2 separate regions of the Homo sapiens genome follow, and region 1 is linked to region 2. The links come from fine-mapping of genetic effects on gene expression. A gene starts in region 2. The other region holds a variant in brackets. All regions are shown on one strand. Distances are from middle to middle.

Evidence for each region. PIP is the estimated chance that this variant, and not a neighbour inherited with it, causes the effect.
Region 1: its variant is fine-mapped to the expression of THAP7 in monocytes (TOPMed, PIP 0.99).

What each region holds. Positions count from the first base shown.
Region 1 is chr22:20,967,481-20,970,211 of GRCh38, forward strand. It overlaps AIFM3 (AIF family member 3), which reads left to right. Exons shown (of 21, transcript NM_001386814.1): 2 at 325-495. The coding sequence starts at 465. Among named protein-coding and RNA genes, the nearest start is that of AIFM3, 1.6 kb to the left of the region's middle. The variant T/C (reference allele first, on the strand shown) is at 1,068.
Region 2 is chr22:21,000,585-21,003,587 of GRCh38, forward strand. THAP7 (THAP domain containing 7) reads right to left here and starts at 1,534. Exons shown (of 4, transcript NM_030573.3): 1 at 1,248-1,534; 2 at 672-827; 3 at 63-203. The coding sequence starts at 1,327. THAP7-AS1 (THAP7 antisense RNA 1) reads left to right here and starts at 1,338. Exons shown (of 2, transcript NR_027051.1): 1 at 1,338-2,245. RefSeq lists an enhancer at 388-597 and silencers at 1,198-1,367, 1,388-1,497, 2,139-2,529.

The sequences.
Region 1 (2,731 bases), 33 kb before region 2:
GCTGTGGGATTTGGAGAGGGGAAGGGGGGCACGAGGAGGCAGTAGAAATCAGGGAGGATTTCCTGGGCAAGGCAGCCGCGGGGCTGGACGATGGGCGGCCGAGGTTCGGGCAGAGGAACTCCACTGGAGGAGTGAGGGAGCTGAGCTTGGAGGGCTTCAAAGGGGAGGTGACCTCCAGGGCCCCACGCTCTGGGATCAGGCTCACGCCATGGTTCCCAGCTCAAATGTAAGACTCTTTCCGAAGCTCCCACTGTCTCTCTCCGTCCCTCTGTGTCTCTACCTGCCCACACGCCCCGGTCCTGATGGCTCCAGTCTCCCCTGCAGGTCCTAGAGCAGCTCCAGCAGGATGGCGGCTCCAGCGTCTCTAAGGCCTGCAGGGGGTCCAGCCCCATGGGGGGCGCCCTAGGCCTCCGACAGCTCCCCATCTGTGCTCCTGCCTGCCGGCCATCCTCAGGCCACTCGCCATGGGCGGCTGCTTCTCCAAACCCAAACCAGGTACCTCCTGTCTTCTTGTCTCCATCCTTTCTCCTCCCTCCCCGCCTCCTCCTCCCCCGTCTCCCCCCCCTCCCCCTCTGCACTCGGTAGGCCTCCGAAGTAGGTCAGGCTATCCAAGAACCCGCTCGGAATGTTAATACGCTGCCGCCAGGAGGGGGTAGGGGGCCTGGAGCAGTTCCCCCAGCTGGCCCCTGCTCCAGTGGGTGCCCCTTTTTCTTTGGGGCTTTGAGTGTTGGTGGTGGGAATAACAGCAGGACCCTTCTTGGAAAAGGAAAGTCAGGGTTCCTCCTGTTGCAGGGTTGGGGAAGGGGCTATGCCCCCAGGGCCAGGGAAGGGGGGAGCTGGGGACACGCTCAGCCACTCTGTGACCTAGGGCATGCAAGTTACCCCTCTGAGCCTCTGTTTTTCTCTCTGCAAAAGAGAGGGCCTGGCCACCCTGACCTCTTAGAGTTGCTGTGAGGGTGTAGTGGGCAGATCCTGGCTCTCTTTGCCTCCTCTGATCCCCTGTGTGGTCTCGGGCTGCCTTCTTGGCCTTTCTGGGCACACTTCCCCATTTATACAGGAAATCACCA[T/C]CCAACCTAGCCTGAGCTACTCCAGCCAGAAGTGGGAGTGTCCTGGGGTGCTAGGGGAGGCCTGGGTCTTTTCTCCACTAAAGACTCATGTCTGCGGAGCTCTCCCTCTGGCCCCCCACTTTCCCTCTTCTCTCCTCACAACACCTGGGGAGGCAGGAGTGTGCAGCTTTGTCACAGGTGGAGAAACTGAGGCTTAGAGAGACCTCAAGAGCGCAGCCAGTGCTCCACTCAACCTGCCAGGCCACGCTGCCCCAGCCAGCTCACCCCAGCCAGCTCACCCCAGCCAGCTCACCCCAGCTCCCCTTACCTGATACCCATCAGCTCCGTTACCTTGGAACTTGTGAGGCTTTTCTCCCTTTCCTGGGTCTAAGGGAGAACTTGGGCGAGGGAGGAGGGCTGTGATGACCCACCAGGCAGAGGGACCCACTTGCCTCTGCTCCAAGAAGCCACTCTTCCTCCCCCGCTCCTGTGCTGTGGACACCTAGGCCTGGGCTGGATCCCTCTCTGCCTCAAAATGTGCCTTGGGCAGATGACGTCCATTGTCTCCCCCTAGCAGTGGGTGGGATGATGCCAGCTGGCCTCATACCAGGCGTCTGTGGCACCGCTGGGCTGGCAGGAGGCCCTGGCAGAAGATGCCACCTGCAGGTTCTTTTAAAGGACCCCAAATGGCTGGCCTGCCTGGGACCCGTGGCCCCAGGACTTCCAGTGTCGGGGGTGGCCACCCTCACCAAAGGCAGTCCTAAGAACTTAGGCAAATCCAGCCCTGCCCCTTTCTGGCTGTGTGGCCTTGGGCAGGTGATTTCCCCTCTCTGAGCCTCTGCATCCTCATTGTAAAGTGGGGCTGTTGTGCCTAGCATGAGGGCCTGGCACACCAGAAGCACTTGCGGAATTTTTTTTTTTTGAGACAGAGTTCACTCCTTCTCCCATGCTGGAGTGCAGTGGCGTGATCTCGGCTCACTGCAAGCTCCGCCTCCCAGGTTCATGCCATTCTCCTGCCTCAGCCTCCCAAGTAGCTGGAACTACAGGCGCCCGCCACCACGCCCAGCTATTTTTTTGTATTTTTAGTAGAGACGGGGTTTCACCGTGTTAGCCAGGATGGTCTCTATCTCCTGACCTTGTGATCCGCCCATCTCGGCCTCCCAAGGAATATTATTTGTTATCCCTTTTCTGAGCTGGGCTCTGTGCTGCCAGGCCTCCCCTGTGGGGCTGTAGCCAGAGGCTCAGGCCCCAGGTGCCCATGCTGGGCAGGTCAGGCATGAGGCTCAGGGAATTTCCAGATATGGGAGTGACAGCATTTGGGGCCTGAGGGTTCAGCTGGGGTCTTAAGGGGCCACAAAGAGACTAGATCAAGCAGAAGACCTCTGTGCAAATCCTTCACTTTCTATCTTGCTCCACTCGATTCTGTGGCTCCGTGTGCATCAGCACCTGCTTCCTGGGTTCCCTCTGTGCTCCTGTGTGTCCTGTCTGAGTAGTTGATAAGAAGGTATCAGACCAGTCCCTCACCTAGCTCAGAGCTAGGAGGAAGTGCAGCTCTCTTAGCATCTGTTCACCTGCCTTTTATTAGGCCATAACTGATACCTAAAGGCTTTCCATCCTCACCATGGCTGCTAGGAGGCTCAGAGCTAACTGGTAAAACACTGCTGCCCAACTCCATCTATTGAGCT
Region 2 (3,003 bases):
CCTAGGGCCCAGTCCCTCAGCCTAGGGGTGGGAGTGGGGCATCCCCCACCCATATCACATACCGCTTCCTGCATCGTCTGAGCCGGCTGACTTCAGCGGGGCCAGGTGGGTAACTGTGTCCTTTGGTCTTGGTTGTCCGGCGCAACTTGGAGAAAGACTCAAATATGGTGGGGACTGCCCCCTCCTTTAGCCTGTGATATCCACTGCGGGGAAAAGCAACCCAGATGAGCTGGAGAGCAAGTGCTGCCTCCCCAGGCCAATCTGCCCCCAGCAGCAGCGCCGTGGGATGCTGGAAGGCATCGTGCAAACAATACGTCTGGGGAACGCCAAGTTACAGCTACACCAATCGCTTCCCCGCAGGACTCCTCACAGTCCAGGTGTGTGGAAAGCCTGCATAAGCCGAGCTGGGCTGACCAGCCAGAAAGAATTCTTTGATTTGTGGACTTGCTGGCAAGACTGGGGCTCTGAAAGATACTCTCTGGAAAGGCTCCTGTTTTCCCCTTGTGTCACAGGCACAGTGATCCTGGGGGTGGGTTTCACTGTGCAGAGCTGGGAACAGGAAACAGCCCCCTTGGACGCAGGCTGCTCAAGGGACTTCCATGACCTGCAGCTGTCCCAGTCCGCCGGGAGCCCCACATCCTACCCCAGCGTCGGCCGGCAGGGAGGCCCACCTGATTCCCACCAGCTCAAAGCAGTCCTCCTCAAAGTGTTTGGAGCAGAAGTAGATGTACTCGGATGCCGGGTCCCACAGGCCCTGGCCGCTGGGGTCCAGCCGCTGGCAGTTGGCCAGCCACAAGCCTCGCCTCGGGTTGTCCTTCTTGGGAAGTCTGTGGAGCCACAAACCCGTGAGCACCAGGCTGTCCACAGCCCTGGGCTCATGCTGCCCAAGCACCCCAGAGGGGAAACGCAGACCCAACACGCGCCGCCACGAGACCTCCCTGCGACCCCGCCGGGTAAGCACCACCGCCCGGGCACAGACGAGGCAACGGAGGCCTCGAGAAGAAAAGCAGTTTCCTCAGCGTCATCTGGCAGGTAACAGAGTGGGGCGGGTCCAAGCCGGCTAGACTTCCCGTCCTCCCCTTCCCGACTGCATTCAGTCCCGCCGGGACCGTTCCGCTTCACCTCCCACCCACAGGTTCAAGCCTCCTCAGTATCTGAGAAAGGCGCGAAGCCTCTACGCAGTTGCGACCCGAGGCGAGCAACAACTAGCGCATGCGCACGTGAGCCCGCGGCGCACGCGCGCTGACCTGTGGAAGGAGATGCCGCGGTTGCGCGTCTCGCGCGTGTCCCGTGTGCAGCAGCCGGCGGCGGAGCAGTGACGCGGCATCTGGGAAAGAGGCGGGAGTTAAGTCGCAAGCGGCTCTCCGGGCATCCGGAGGAGCCTCGCGCCTCCAGCCGCCGCTCCTCCCCAAGGGGCTCTGGCCTGTCGGGTCCCCCCCGGCCCGTTGTCGCCCCAACCCCGTCCCAGCCGATTCTCTTGACTTCTGTCAGCGGCACTCACGCTCTGGCCATTGCTGCGCCGCCGAAGTCTCGCGAGGGGTAGCGCGCGCCGGAAGTTGGTACCATAGAGACTGGAGAGCCGGAGGTGCCCCCGCCACCGGGGCGGGGCGGGGCGAGGTCCTAGCTAGCTGGGTTAGTAAGCGGCGCGAGCGTGCGAGTTTCTGACGCGCCCGCGTCGTCCCAGCTCCCTGGACTACCAGTATTGTCGCCCACGTGGGCTTCTCTTTCGTCCGCTCAGGCCTCACTTTTCTCCGTAAACACCCCGGCACGATGGAGCGGCCCCAGCGTTCGGGAGCGGCCCGGGAGCGGAAAGCGGCAGTGTCCTGGGAGCCTCGAAAGCCGCAGGGGCGGCAGCTCGCCTCGGAATGACCTCTGACGGAAGAAATAAAACGGGGCCTGGGACGCTTGCACGAAAGAACCCGACAAAAACCAGAGCCCGCACTCACTCTCGTACTGGGGAGGTGGACTTCAGGGAGGGTTATCTGGAGGAGGAATCTCTCAAAGTACAACACAGGAGAAAGACAGTATCGCAATACAGAAATTTTATTTTTTATTTTATTATTATTTTCCTGAGACCGGAGTCTCGCTCTGTCGCCCAGGCTGGAGTGCAGTGGCGCGATCTCGGCTCACTGCAAACTCCGCCTCCCGGGTTCACGCCATTCGGCTGCCTCACCCTCCACAGTAGCTGGGACTACAAGCGCCCGCCACCACGCCCGGCTAATTTGCAATACGGAAATTTTAATAGGTAATTAGCTCTCCTAGCGTTATGGTGGGGAATACAGAGGGATGGTTGCCTGCCGCACCCTCCCCTCACTATTCTTCGCCTTCTTCAGCCTCAGCTTCCACGGAATCCATGCCCACATCTTCATAATCCTCCAGAGCTGCCAGATCCTCGCGGGCCTCGGAGAATTCCCCCACTGCCATGCCCTCCCCCACGTACCAGTGCACTAAGGCGCACTTGGCCGAACTTATGGTCCAGGCAGGCCCAGGCCTCCGTGATGGCCGTGGTGTTGCTCAGCATGCACACCGCCCGCTGCACTTTGGCCAGGTCTCCCACAGGGACCACCGTGGGGGGCTGGTAGTTAATGCCCACCTGTCAGAGATGGGCAGCATAGAATGAAGTTTATATTGGCCTCAGAAATGGGAGCTCATTAAAAATCAGAGCTGTGGACCAGTTCCAACACTGTGTTTTAAGAATTGCTTCTATATTTTTTGGCATTATCTGTTATCTATCGACAATTAATATCCTTTGACGACTTTTTTTTTTCTTTTCTTCTCCTTCTTCCTCCTTCTCCTCCTTCTTTGTTGTTGTTGTTGAGACAGGGTCTAGCTCTGTTGCCCAGGCTGGAGTGCAGTGGTGCAATCTCGGCTCACTGCAACCTTTGTCTCCCAGGTTCAAGCAATTCTCCTACCTCAGCGTCCTGAGTAGCTGGGATTATGGGCATGTAAGATGGAGCCCGGAAGACGGAGATTTCAGTGAGCTGAGATTTCGCCACTGCACTC